Linked DNA regions of Homo sapiens. The protein of the gene in region 2 interacts with the protein of the main gene of each other region in a pairwise test. Each region holds a gene or a part of one and is shown on either strand. Other genes may lie near its edges.

The links. Proteins that work in one complex are often made in the same cells at the same time.
Region 1: the proteins of FSTL1 (region 2) and GPC1 interact in a two-hybrid assay, tested with the Homo sapiens proteins (one study listed by IntAct).

What each region holds. Positions count from the first base shown.
Region 1 is NC_000002.12:240,431,100-240,438,680, reverse strand, and holds the start of GPC1 (glypican-1 precursor), read right to left. Parts: upstream 3,019-7,581; 5' UTR 2,763-3,018; coding exon 2,597-2,762; intron 1-2,596. UniProt on the Homo sapiens protein: Cell surface proteoglycan that bears heparan sulfate. Binds, via the heparan sulfate side chains, alpha-4 (V) collagen and participates in Schwann cell myelination.
Region 2 is NC_000003.12:120,405,975-120,412,995, forward strand, and holds part of FSTL1 (follistatin-related protein 1 precursor), read right to left. Parts: intron 6,010-7,021; coding exon 5,880-6,009; intron 5,011-5,879; coding exon 4,978-5,010; intron 3,689-4,977; coding exon 3,558-3,688; intron 1-3,557.

The DNA.
Region 1 (7,581 bases), on a different chromosome or scaffold from region 2:
GCTGGGAAGGCCCGCCACACACCCAGGGCCAACTGCTCTCCTTCCCACGAGGAAGTATCAGATCTCTACCCCACCTGCTCCGGGCCAGCGAGGTGCCCAACCCCAGGGGGTTCGCATTCCCTCTGAGGAGGTCCCCCTGGAGAAGTCTGGATGCAGGAGAGAGGGGACTGAGAATGGTGCCTACTAGGCCACAGAGGGTCCAGGGCTCCTGGGAGGATCTGCCGCCCAGGGGCCACCAGAGGGCGCCCGTTCCACGGAGCCCAGGCCCAGCCGACAAAGCAGGAGGGGACACTGGGCTTGGCTGCCCCAGGACTGCTGCGACCCGAGGGAGTCACCCTGTTTCCCTCAGCCCACGTGGCTCCCACACTGTCTTCTGTACCCTGGGTCCCGAAGGTTACTCCCCACTTCTGCAGCCATAGGGGGTGCAGGGAGAGAGGTTCCTGTCGGAGGGGCACCGACTGGAGAGGCAGTAATCCTGCCCAGTGCAGTCCTGGCCTTGCAAGTCTGGAGGAGGGTGGCACCCCGAGCCCTGGCAGCAGGCACTGGCCCATGGCTGGCACCGTGGTTAGACAGCTGCAGGGCGTTCGTACTCCCCACGCGGGGTGGACAGCATCCCCTGCCCCATCAGACACAGAGAAATCAACACAATCTGCCTGTCCTGGGTCCCTAACCCACTGCATTCCCCAACCCAAGAGCAGCACGACCCACACTCTCTGGCCCAGCCCCACATCAACTTCTCCATCTTGTCCTGCCCTCTCTTCTCACCCTTGGGAGATGGCCAAACTCTGCCACTCTGTCTCTCTAACTGGCAACAGTGGCCTGTGGATGCAAGGAAGGTTAGGTTGGCTCCTAAGGATGCAACTGCCCAGAGGACATGGAGGTGCTAAGAAGGGCTGGGGGCTAATGGTTTCCAAAGGAGCAGGGTTCAAGACTCTGGGCTGGGAGGGGCAGCCACTCAGCCACTCTGCTACCCTGGTGCCTGGGGAGGGATTCACCAGGAAGGCCAGGGATGCCTCTTTATGTGTGAGTAGAGGGGCAGAGAACGAACCCAACTGTGCCGAGGGCCTTGTGCTGCCTGGCATCCAGGTGTGCCCCCTACCTGGGACAGACAGAGCCCAGTGGGGTGAGGGGGGCAGCCTGGAAATGACAGGGTTGCCTCTGCAGAGGCACAGGAAGGCCTGTCCTGGGGACTTTGGAGGGGTCCTTGCAAGAACCTCAGGCTGGTGGGGAGGGCATCGGGAGATCCGCCAAGGGACTGTCTGCGGGTTCTGTTCCTTCTGTGGGGGGCGGTCAGGGGGCCCTTACAAGAACCTCAGGCTGGGGGCATCGGGAGATCCACCAAGGGCAAGGGGCTGTCTGTGGGTTCTGTTCCTCCTGGAGGGGCAGGGGTCCAGAGCCCGACTGCCTCCTCCCACCACTCCGCCCCCCGCGGCAAGGCATGGCCACAGACCCCCCTCACCCAGATGCACGGATCCTTCTTGCTCAGAATCCCCAGGACCATGGGCATTTCTGCGCTGAGTCCCCATCTGAGTAGCCCTCCACCCGCACTCCCACTCCCCTGGTTTCAGAGGAGCCCCCCAGAGCAGGAACCTAGTCTGTTTTGTTCTTGCCCACTGGGTCCCTGGCACGCGGTACAGACCGAGGTTGGTTCCCACACGTGGAAAGGTGAAGCTTGGGTTCCAAGAGTTCCTTAGCACACGGAGCCCACCGTTCCACCCACCCGTACACTTCTGTCCCCAAAGCTCCTCCGGGACCACAGGGAGGGAAGAGGCAGAGCCGCAGGCGGCTGCAGGGCTTAGGGGGCGCCAAGAGGGCCGCTGTTCTTACAAAGAAATGACACGGCCCCTGGGCGGGATCCAACGCGCCGACCACCTGCAGCTGGACTCGCGGCACGAGGCTGCCCAAGCGCCAGGCGGGGGCCGGCGCGTACAAGTTCTTCGACAGGAATCTCTACGAGGCGGCGGCGTTCCGCCCGCGGATAAGTGCCCAGCTCCCTCCCCACCCCTCCGCACTACCCCCCGAGGGGGTCAGCTTATAAAACCCACCTAGGCTGCCTTTGCTGGAGACCCTACGAGAATCCCCGGGCAGGACCGGAGACGCCTCCCAGAGAGGTCTGTACAGAGCAGAAGGGGTCCGCGGCCACCGTCAGCGGCGCCCCGAAAGCCCGGCCACGCCGAGCCCCACAGCGCCCCGACAGCCGGCCCCGGGGCTGGGACTCCCGGCCTGCAGGCGCGCTGGGCCGAGCGGCGGGCAGAAGACGCCCAGCTCCAGCCGTGGCCCGGGAGGAGCGCCCCGAGCCCGCAGCCCGGCGAGATCAGCTCCGCAGGGAAGAAGCCGGCGTGCGGGGGGCGGGGAGGGGCGGAGGACGACCGAGCGGGGCGGAGGAGACCCTGGCGAGGGAGTGCGGCGCGGGGCTTGGAGGCGAGGGCCGTGGGGTTGCAGAGGAGCCGCAGCGCAGGGAGCCATTCGGGGCCCGGGCGGCGGGGCGCAGGCGGCAGGATCCCGCGCCGGGGGCGAGTAGCCGCGTCGGGAAGACCAGGGTCCGGAGCCCAAAGCCCGGCCAGGCCCGGGTTCCCGGCGCCGCGCCCTCACTCACCCGAGATCTCCGCCTGGGGCACGTCGCTCAGGCTGAAGCCCTTGGCTCCGTAGATCTGGCGGACCTCGCCGCAGCTCCGGCTCTTGCTGGCCGGGTCCCCGCGGGCGCAGGCGACCAGCGCTGCGGCCGCACATAGCAGCCACCAGCCTCGGGCCCGGAGCTCCATGGCGGGGCCGGCGGCGCCCCCGGCCACCCGCCCGCGCCTCTCTCGGATCCTGGCCGGGTCCTGCGCAGTTCCCGCCCGCGAAGGGCAGAGCCAAGGTCCCGGCGCGCGCGGCTCGCGGTCCAGAGGCGGCGGCGGCCGAGGAGGCGGAGACAACAAAAGCCGGCGGCGGCGGCGGCGCGGGGCGCGCGGGGTGCGAGGTCCGAACGCTCGCTCGGGCAGCCCAGAGCGCGGCGGGCTAGCGCAGTCCCGGCTCGGCGCCTCCCCCGCCGCCGGCCCGGCCCCTAGGCGGCCGCGGGAGAGGAGAGGGGCGGGGCAGGGTGGGAGCGCAGGGGTGGGGGAGGGACTGGGAGCACCGGGCGGGGCGGGGCGGGGCGCGGCGCGGGGGCGCGGGCCGGGGCGCACTGGGCGCTCCTCTGGCTCTTAGGGACCCAGAGGGCCCGCCTGGCCGCGCGACTCTATCGATCCCCGGCGGGAGGCGGCGGAGCCGGGCAGCGCGGGGCCGCGGCCGGGGTCCCCGAGGGCGGCCCCCCACGCCCAGCGCCCAGGGCGGTGGCACCACCTGTGGGGGCGGGGACGGGGGCGGAGGGTGCGCGAGGCAGGGCTTCCCCCGCCGGACGTGACATCACGCCTCCCGCGCCCCAATCAGGGGCCTCCCCGCCCCCAGCCGAAATCGGCATCCCGCTCCCCGCTCCCTCCCGCGCGCTCCGGCTTCCTGCACCCTGGCAGCGCGCCCCGAGAACGCTCTCCCGGCGCCTCCGTACCCTCCGCCCGCCGGCCGCGCCTCGAGCCGCCGCCCCTCTCCCCGCCTGCACCCCGCAGCGGCTCCCTCCCCGCGCCCTTCCAGCCGTCTCGCGCTGGGCTCCGGCTCGCACCGGGGGCTTTTGTGGTGTGGGGGCTGCACGCAGGAAACTCGCCAAGAAACTCGACCTCACCTCTCCCAGTCCCAGGGAGCGGCAACAGATGGCTTAATTGTTGGACCTTGACAGCTGTTTTGGGGGGGTGACCCTCCACGTTCTTTGGATGCTGGAGAAACCAAAGTGATGGGGCAGGGCCGGTCTACTGGTTTGGGCTGCTGGGTGGGGCCAGATGACCTCTGGAGAAGGGATAGGGTTGGAACCCGGCGACTAGTTAGGCCACTGGGGGAGGAGGGTGGAGTGAGCCGGAGCAGATGCCTCTTTGAAGAAGGCGGGAGGGCTGCCTGCACCTTGTATGGTAGGAGGGCGCGTGGCTTTAGCTGCACATGGGGAGTTGGGCTGGATGGGGTCTGTAGGGAGGGGGCGAGGACTGCGATGTTGGTGTCTGGAGGGCTTCACTCCTTCCTTGGCTCCCAGACCCCCCACCCCGGCCCCCTGTTCTCCACATGGTAAGGCCTGGCGGTGAAGCCAGGTGCCTGAGCTGCAGAATTGGGGGCAGGCATAGAGGTCAGTATCCTTGGCAGAGAACCTCAAGATGACCCCCATGTACAGCAAGGGTGTCCTGATTTCAGGGCCTGTGGCATCACCTGGAAGCTGCAGCGGGGTCCGTGGTGGGGGTGGTGGCAACATTCCCTACCCCTTCTGTGCCTGGGGCTCTCAGCCGCTGTGTGGGGCTGGAGCAGGAAGGTGGGGTGCCCTCCCCCTGGGCTCTTGGGGTTTCCTGCCCTGCCTCCCAGAGAAGGTTGCTCCTTCACCCAGAGACACTGAGTCATTGCTGGAGAGGGAGGCTTTGGGGACCCAATCCAAGTGTGCATTTCCCTGCCCTCCCCCACATACCCTCTGCTGCGTCACATTTTGTGACTCACAGACCCCTGTTCAGTACATGCTCCAGGCTTGCTCCTTCTTGCCTGGGCCTGGCGTGGCTGCCTGCACACCTTATCCAGCACGGTCAGGAGCCTGGGCCCACGATCCCGCTCTCTCTCTGTGTGGTCTCACGCACTGCGGGATCAGGCAGGGCTGCCTGGGCCTAGGAAGCTGGACTTGAGGTTAACCCGGCCTGAGGCTCTATAGTTACCCCGTCACTGTCTACGCCTCCTCTTAATCTGACCAGGTTGGGTTATTCCTCCAGGCAAGTCCTTCCTCCAGCCTAGTTCTGGGCCTCTGGATGGCAGTGTGGACAGCAGGGCTTAGAACGCGATGGTGGCAGCCTCTGCCTGGCCCTGGTGACCCCTGGGTGGCTTCATCTCCTAAGGAAGTCCTTACCACCATCGCAGGTCCTGGAATCATTCCCATTCCGCAGGCCAGGAGACCTGTAGCCAGGGCCTTCCCTGGAGAGGATGCACATGCCGCCGGGGGCATTGGAAGCAAAAGCCGTGTTTGCACCTGGGAGGAGCCGCAGGATCCTGAGCAGCTGCAGCTACCCCTGCTTCCCTCCTGGCAATGCTGCACACGCCCGCTGTCACCAGGGCAGGAGCCGCCAGGCTGCCCGTGCTAGTCGGGTGCAGGGTCCAGACTGGGACTCTGGGAGGATGGGCAAGGCTGATCAGCCCCCTCTTCCACCGCTGTCCCTGGGGCCGCTCCACACAGGACACGTGGATGGGTTTGAGGACATAGTTGATGCCTCGAATCCCAGCCACCACAGTGACCCTTGTGGCTCTGACCAAGACCACCCCCTCCTGCTTTGGTGTCTTTGCCTGGCTAGACAGTGGGGGCACACGTATGCGACACAAAGAAGGAATGAATGAGCAAGTGAGGAAACACCTGAGAGGAAAAGTTTGTCCCTGAGAGTGGGCGTGTGGCGCAGCCTGGACCTGCTCTTCCACAGGTGCAGTGAGGGCAGAGGACACTTAGCATTGTCTGACGGGCTGAGGCAGGCAGTGCCTGTTGGGCCAGGGCGTGGGGGCCTCCCTTCCATGCCCCCATCTTCTGTGGAGGACCCCAGGTCCTGGAGGGCGTGTACTGCTGGCTTAGGGCCCACTCCTGCCTCTGCCTAGGGAGGGTGGGGGTCTGCGGGATGCTGAGCCTGGTCTCTGCTCAGAAGACACAGGGAGCGCCGGGGGGCCCGCAGCTCCCAGCCGTTCGGACGGCAGGTCTGCCCAGAAATTATCCTACTTTTGCTCCGTGGAACCCTCGTGAGTGTGCACGCCCTTGCCCGCTGCCATGGACGGACAGCTTCCCTTTCTGTTTGGTTTCAGGGATTGTCTTTCGGAGACTCCAAAAGTAAGTTTCCAAACAGACTGAGCGATTGTTGTCGCTGCCATCCATGGCTGCCTTCTTGTGAATGTCACTGCCTGTAGCATCCCTACCTACGAGAGCCCTGTCCTACTGGCCGTGGGAGGCAGGAGTGCGCGCGTGTGCCTGCAGACAGCAGGGGTTCAAGGGCGTGGACTAGGGCTGGCTGGGATGTGGCATCTGATCTGTTAGAGCACCCAGGAGGTGTTTTGGTGCCCTGGGGCATAGTGGAGGATGTAGGGTCCCCACACCTCTGTGGGGGTCTGGGGACCCCTTGGGCAGCAGCCTGAAGGAGGAAGTGGATACCCCAGCATGTGGCTGATGAAGGGAACATGGTCCCCAGGAGTGGCTGGCAGCCCTGGGCAGAGCAGGGTGGGCAGGACAGCCTGCCTGCAGAGCTGGAGATCTTTCTGCAAATGGTAATCAGGGTGCCTGCCAGAAAGAAGCGGGGCTCTGGGCAGCTCTACAGGGCTTAGCGATGGGGAGGGGATCTGCCCCAGGGCCTGCTCTGGCCCATGGACTCCACCTCCAGCTCACCCCGTGCTTCCTGCCCTGCCTTTTGGTGGTGACACTTGGGGAACATTCATCCGGTCTCTCATTCTGGTGCTGGCTCAGGGAGCCGCTGTCATCTCATGAAGGAGCTCGGCTCCAGACGACCCTGCAGGATTGTACTCGTGTGGGGTCTGTGAGGTGGGGTGCTGGTCCCTGCTCTGCCTGGACACTCAGTGGTACCCTGGAAGGTCTTCCAGCCCTGAGCCAGGACCCTAATCTACAGGAGTTCGGCTTTGAGTCTGAACCCTAGGGCTGCCCTGGCTTCCCCAACTTAGGGGCTGCCACTGGGCAGTGAGGGTGGGTGGACAAGGGCGCCAGCTGGGCAGAGTTTGCAGGACTGAGAAAACCTGGCACCATTATTCTCAAAGGAGGTCATACCTGCACCTCCCTCCACCTCTCTCCAAGCCCCTGCCGTGGGGCAGTCAACTTGAAGGTGAAGCTGTTTGGAGCCTGCTCTGCTCTGCTGGGTCCTTTTGATCAGCAGAAGTCTGGGCTGGCCTCCCTTATCCAGGTCAGAGGAGAGCAAGCCTTTTCAGTGAGGCTGGGTCACCCGTGTGGTAGGTGGGGTCAGAAGAATGCACCTGTGGCCCCTCCAAGAGCTGGCACCTGTTTCTCTAGTCTGAGGACCCTGGTAGCAAGAGATGACCCCAAACACTCCACTCTGGGCTGAGCTGGGTTTGGCCTTCCCTGTGGCTGTTTTCCTGCCCCTCCCCACCCTGACTCTTGGCCTGGTCTCCTTGAGGAGAGGGAGCAGATGGGGGCACTCCGGCACTGTCTGCTATGTTAGGACAAAGCACCCCACACACCTGGAGCTCAGAGACCCACGTGCACGCTTTGGTGTCCCCAGCACCAGCAGCTCATGGCTTTCCTGCCAGGTCCTGTCTGCTCTGTGTGTGGCTCCTGCCCTTCCCTCCACCTCTCCCCTTCTGGACCATTGCTGGCTTTTGACCTATTCCTCCTGCAGTCCATACTGCCTGGCTGATCATTTGAAAACCAGCTTCAATCCGAAGCCTGCAAGGACTCTGAAGATCAGAATGCAGCTGCCCTCAGCCACAGTGCAGGAGCCCCTGAGCCTCCCCCTCCTCTCAAGGGGTCCAGGAAGCTGAACGTTCTTCCCCTCC
Region 2 (7,021 bases):
GATGGCTCCCCAGATGGTGCAAGGGATTCTGGAAGAAACATCTATCCAAATTTCTAGATAGAAGGGGAAGATGTAGCTAACAACTCTCCTCTCCTGCTTGCCATGTGTCACAGGTGTTCCACTCTAATGTTGTATAATGAAGGTGTGCATGAAACAACTATTAGGCCTTTGCTTAGTACGTACTTATCATTCTTGTCCTAATTCCTAGGAACAGGTCTCTGATGTCCTTTATTCACTATACAATTTTCCCTGACGAAACTTCCCTGTTTACCTTGTGAAGTCTTGATTAATTAATGGAAAATAATTAAATAAGTTTGGCTGGGGGCCATTGTTAGTAGCACAGGGCTTTCTTGAGTTCAAATATTGCATGTGCTGGGTAAATGACAGCAACCCTCAAAGACTCCAGTGTCATCAGGGCCTGATGATGGAATGAGTGTAGGGAGGGGAAACGTCCAGCACTAGCTACAGACCCAGTGCCACATGGCCCAAGTGGGCACCATGAACCTGGCAACCACAGTCCAGGCAGCTCTCAAAAGGCAGTGCTGTGTACACACACTTCAGTAGGACTAGAATAAGGCCTGCAGCTGGGGGAAGGTCCAGCCCATGTGCTTTCTCAACTCATGAGGGTCCAGTTGGGCCTCCCCAGGCCAGAGTTGTATGTAGAATCCACAGGAACACAGAATTCTGGTGCCTGCCCCAGAAATAGCCTGGAATGCCTGGGGGGTCTGCCTGTGAGGTCCTAATCATGGACCATGAACCAACCTAATTTATTGAGCCTCTCTTCAGCCAGTCAGTTACAAAGACATAATATCTCTCTGTGCCTCTTTCCCCAGCTCTATACAGGTTGATTATCCCTTATCTGAAATGCTTGGGACCAGAAGTGTTTCAGATTTCAGATTTTGGAAAGTTTAAATATGTATAATGAGATATCTTGGGGATGGGATCCAAATGTAAACATGAAATTCATCCCTGTTTCCTATATACCTTACACATATAGCCTGAAGGTAATTTTATACAATAGTTTAAATCATTTTGTGCATGAAACAAAGTTTTGACTGTGTTTTGAATGCTACCCATCACATGAATTCAGGTGTGAAATTTTCCACTTATGGCATCATGTTGGTGCTCAAAAAGTTTCAGATTTCAGCATTTGAGGTAACAAAACTTTTCCTCTATCTAACTGTAGGGTTGTGGAAAGGCAGAAAAGATGTATGTCATGAGATCTGTTCTTGGGGCTTATCAATGTAAGTTTGGAGACTCTTCAGAGGAGATGGGCTGAGACAGGCACTTGCTTGTGCACAGCAGCTGGGGCTGTGTGGGCTGTGGTGCCAGGGTAAAGGAGATAAGAAGGCTGGCTCAAGTGTCAGCCCTGGCCATCAGGAGCCACAGGGATTGAGATCACACCCAGATGAAATTAGGAATGGATTAGATTCCAAATTCCAAGAGCATGGAAGGCTCTTTCTACCTGGGTCTTTCTTTCTTCATTCTGTTACGCTTTCACCTAAGAAACAGTGACTACATCACTGGTTATGGTGAAAGTCAGATTTTGGCCTTATTCAAATTCTAATTCAATTTGGTTTTTGAACAATTTTGATGTAAGAAATGCCAGCTGGGCTGGGGAGCATTTCATTGGTTCATAACAGTCTCTTTGAGATATCAGACCTCTCACCAACAGGCAGCTGCTGACCTAGGAGGAGGCAGTCTCCCTTTGAAGACAGCAGCATGTAAGACTCTGATAATCATCAAAAAGTAGAAAATGAAACCTGTTTTCTCCTGTTAGACACTGCCAGAGTGTCTGGGAAGAGGGGATTTTGTGTCTGTCAGTCATGATCAAGCTTTCTTAGATGCCTGGTTGTGAGAATGTCCTAGAGAAGAGCTACTTTCCCAAAGGGCCTTATAGCTTTCAGAAGGGAGCCTGTAAAAGTGAGTTACTGCTGGAGGAGATGGAGATGTGTTGAGGGGAATGTGGCATAGGTTCTTGGGAATCAAATCTAATAGCAGGTGTCAGTGATGCCTGAGGCAGAGTGCCATCAAAGGGCCACTAAAAAATGGTTACAACGTCCTAAGTGGCCCCTGGGAAGGAGTGTCCTGGGCCCCACACCTCCTATGCTGTAATTGCAGGGCAAAGTCACTGCTCACACACAGCAGGCCCTGCAGGTACCTTTACCATTCGCTCAGCTTTTGAACAGTCACTTTCTTTACATTACTTTCTGTTCCTGTCCAAGTCTCCTGGCTCAGCACTATGATGTGTTTTTCTGTAGAAGAGGAACCATTCTTCCTCTAAGGGCTCTGTAATGTGGGAGTGATTGAGAGAGAGGACAGAGCAAGAAAGGCTGTGCTTTTTCATCTGGGTATGATCTCAAAAACTTGGAATCCAGAGATTTAGTATCTGCCATAGAGGAGAGAAATCTCTATGTAAAAATGACACAAGTGAAGTCTTAAATGACCAAATATCCATTTGAAGCCAACCCAGTATTTCTTCATCTGCGGGTTCTATAGTGTCAGAAAGAGAAATCCACAGACTAGACTGGCATTGGCCACATTAGGTGGCCTCAGAGCTGCCAAGAAAAGTCCTTCATGTGTCTGAAGTTGCTCCTGAGTCCTGGCTGGGTTGGGCCCTGGAAGCATGTGAGGGAGTAGATGGCTGGGGCATCTACCTAGTGAAGAGGGCTTTGGTGCTTGCATGGAAATGTGGGTATCTGAATGTGTCTGCATGTAGGATGTGTCTCTGTGTGGCATGTGAGTCTCTGTATGTGGTGTGTGTGTGCGTGTCTGGCATGTTTTGAGTTTAAGTGTGTCCTTCTCTGTGCTTCTGAGTGTGATATTCTGAGTGTGATGTACCTGTGTGTGTGTCTGTTCTTGTCAATCAGCTGTAAGAATGCCCTTAATTGCTTCTTCTAACTCTCAAGTTCTGTGAAAGATCTGCATGGCATGATAACCCGAGCCATCACTAAATATTATAGCTTCCTTCATTTCTCTTTGTGAAAATAGCATCTCTCCTGCTCCCAAGTGGAACACTCTGTCTCTTCAACTAATTATGATTGGGAACAGCAATATCTAAGTTCAGGAACAATCTCTGGACCCATGAAATGCCAGTCCATTGATTCTTCTCATATGAAGACTCTCTCCAAGCCATTGGCAGTCAAGTTAATGACTTAGAGAAATGTCAAACTAGGCAGGAAAGAGGCCAAAGTGGTCCAGGTCTGGGTGCAATCAGAGGGAATTTTGTATTAACAGCCAGATCCATAAGGTGTCATGGCGAGTAGGGGACAGAGCTTGGCCCTAACTGACAGGTTCTCCAAGACCTTTGTGGCTTTCACTGCCTGAAGGCAGCAGCACATGTGTGTTAGATCCCAAAGACTCCACTGCTTACTCCCACTGATCAAGCTGGTCAGAAGGCAACTTTCACAGCTTCATGAATGATCTATGATGAGGAAACTCAGGGTGTCTGTGCAGGTTTACATTTCCTGTGGTCTGGGAAGGTGTGATCGGGCAATGGGAGGAGGAAGCTTCCCTTTCTATGGGCCTGAATAGTCTTCCTCCTACCTCTGGATTACCTTAAAATACTTGTCTAGGATTTCACTGTAGTTGCTGCCTTTAGAGAACCAGCCATCTGGAATGATCTCAGCTTCCAGCCACTGGATGATGCGACGTCGGAGCTCATCACGGTTGGACTGATAGCAAACAACTGCAGGAAAGTGGAGGATGTCAGCTGGAGCAGTCAGGGGAGGACCCCAGTGATATCTGGCACCCACTGTGTGGGAGCATCCGTGCCCATGGTTCTGCATATGTCATCCCAGCAACACAGGGAGATAGGATTAGCACATCCAGGGTACACAACTGGAAAAAGTCTAGCCCAGGATTCAAGCACCCATCTCTAAAATATTTGTAAAGATTGAGAATATTGAAACAGAGAGATTTTGCTGCTTATGTGAGAAATAACTAGAGCAGAAAAATAATAAAGGATACTTTCATTAACTTTAGGAAGCTGAAGGGGAAAAAATCAATAAAGCAGCTCTCTTGACTCAAAGATGAGCTGAAATAATACATGAATAAATGAGAATATTACAGTTTTTATGCTACTAGATTTCTGATTTTCTCCAGTTTCTCCCTTTCTCACCAACTAGGTCCATCCAAACTTCCCCCCACTTACAACTGTATACCACCTGCATCATCCTTTATTATGAACAACAGAATGTGAAGGCCAGTGAGGGCTACGTCGAAGCCCTGCTCTGGACAGCTGTTGTCCACTGGAAATAACAGGGGGTGCTGAGAGTTGAGTGGATGGGGAAGCAGAGGAGAGAAAGCTTTGGCAAAAGAGAATTCCTGGAAGACAACACATGCTGTGGGTGAAAAGGGCACTGGGCCAGGGGAATGAAAATCTGGGAGTTCTTCCCCAGTCTGCCAATTACTAGCTGTGTGATATAGAAAACTCACTTAGCCTCTTTGAGCCTCAATTTCCTCATCTATATGGTAATTACAATAAGATCTACTTCACAAAGGCTACCGTGAGAATCTAAGGAAAGTATGTGCAAAAAAGCTCTGTAACTATAAATCATGATAAAATTTTAGTGATCACTAATAGAAAACCACAGAAGTCTTACTGGCATTTCCAGTTATCCCCTTTCAAAAAGAGTTGTGCCTTCTATTTGCTGGTCCCATGACACGAGCATGTCTTATAGGATGTTGAAAAATGAACTCAGTGGCTTTCCTGTTTATGCAGTTCAATCACTACTCAGGAAAAATGGGAAAACACAGCCAACATTCTGACCCAACCAGCTGCTTCAATTGGCAAACACATACACAAATGTAGTTTTGCAGCTTTTCTGAGCTGTGTTGAGGAGTGGCCAGTTCTGGGACACAATTCTGATGCATAGAAGATCTTATGAGCTTGGCAGGGATTGTGGAACACAAAATTTCTATCATGAAAAGAATGTCCTCCCTGAGATGCACACAGTAGAAAAAATAGGCACTCACCTGGGCTGGCAGATGGACTTACGGATTTCTTCTCTGCAAGACAAAAAGAGAAAACGTGTAATGCGAAGTGAAGGAAAAAAGAAAATTTTTCTGTATTTCTAGGATTACAGCTGCTCTACATGTAGGGGAATGTTTGTAACCTTTTCATCATTTTGTCTTGAATCCTTTCCCTTCCTTTCCTTCTTCTAGGGCCCAGGTATGAGGATCTTCTGTCTCCTGCTTTGTCTGACAATTTAGGGCCACTGAGTTACCCTTCTGGCCTCATACCTCCTCCTGTTGCATTGAGGGGTCACTGGGATTTTGAGAATTCAAATGGAGAATCATTCTGGACAGGGAATGGAGTGGAGACAATCACCTGGGAAACAGCTTCTTGTTTCTTCAAGGAAGGGCAAGGCTGAGAGGGGCTGGGCAGGGCTATGGCTTGGCAGGGGGCTGGTATCTAATTAGCAACAAGTGTGGGACTTCTTCCTTCTTATTCTAATGGCAGTGGTTTCAGTGCAAAATAGAGGAAACAATACTGAGAGGTGCCCAAATTAAAAAGCATGGGAAAAGTGAAACTTACCTACTTTCTAAAAAGGTACATAATTCATTTAAGGAACTTTCTTATTGTTACTGATTTACTGATGGGGTCCACCCTATCTACTATCCAGCTGCAGACAGTGCTGAAAACCCCCATGGGGATCTGATATAGCAAACCCTGGGCAGAGGCCTGGGCCATCCAGGGCAAACCCAGCAGGCTCATAAGTGACAAGAGGATGCAACTCCAACCAACTGGGCGCTTTCCACAGCTTTGAGAGGCTGTGGTCGTGGAGGAAAGACCATGTGGTCAGCCAGGCCACACTGCTCTGTTCCTTGGCTCCCCGTGGCTAAAGCTGCCTTGCAGTGGTGAGAGCACACCTTACCTTTGCAGTGTCCATCGTAATCAACCTGGATTTTGGATCCAGTGAGGCAGGCATCTCGATGCAGTTCACAGTGGTTGAGGTAGGTCTTGCCATTACTGCCACACACAGGCCTCTTGTGAGGTTTGCATTGCTGAAACAGACCCAAAAGAGAATGTTTGTGCAGTTATGGATATCGACACACAGACACACACACACACATACATGCACACACACACACAGAGCCATTTTGTAAGGGGACTCTCCACCACCAGAGATGGTGCTTCTACCCCATCAGGGCACAGGCAGTCACAGTTCTGGCCAACTGACCCTGTCTCAGTTGCCTATGGCCCTTCATGCCTATCCTGGTCCAGGGTCATCTCTTCTATTCAGTGAAGAAAGAGACACCCTCTATAGTTTCAATGTTTGTGATCCCTCCAAAATTCATGTTGATACTTAATCCACAATGCAAAAGTATTAAGAGGTGAGGCCTTTAGGAGGTGATTAGGTCATGAGGACTCCTCCCTTGTGGATGAGGTTAAGAAGTGAATAAAACAGTCTTCCTACAGCATTTGGCCCTTTGGCCCTTCTGCCTTCTGCCATGTGAGGATGCCACATGCAAGGTGCCATCTTGGAAGTTAGAGACCAGGCCCTCACCAGACATCAAATCTGCTTGCACCTCAATCTTGTACTTCCCAGCCTCCAGAACTGTGAGAATTAAATTCTTATTATTTATTAATTACCCAATCTCAGATATTTTGTTATAGCAGCCCAAACAAACAAAGACACCCCCCACATCAAATGAGCAGAAAGGGCGTTTTATTAAAAGCCAGAAATTTGAATTCTCTGTCACTTTGGAAAAAGTAATTTAATGTCTCAGAAGATCTAAGATCCCTTAATATTCCAACATTCAATGACACAAAACAGCCAGAGCTGAGAGCTGGGAATGTGGAGAGGCTGATAGGCAGGCAGGCAAACACACACACATGTGCGCGCGCGCGCGCGCGCGCACACACACACACACACACACACACACACACACACACTCCAATTCTTCTGCAGCCTAACTGTAAGGATCTCTTGCTGTATATACTATTGGGGGAACACTTTGTTTTCCTCCTGATCTCAAGCCTTTGTTGTGAAGCTAGGAGTAGGGTTGCCTGGGT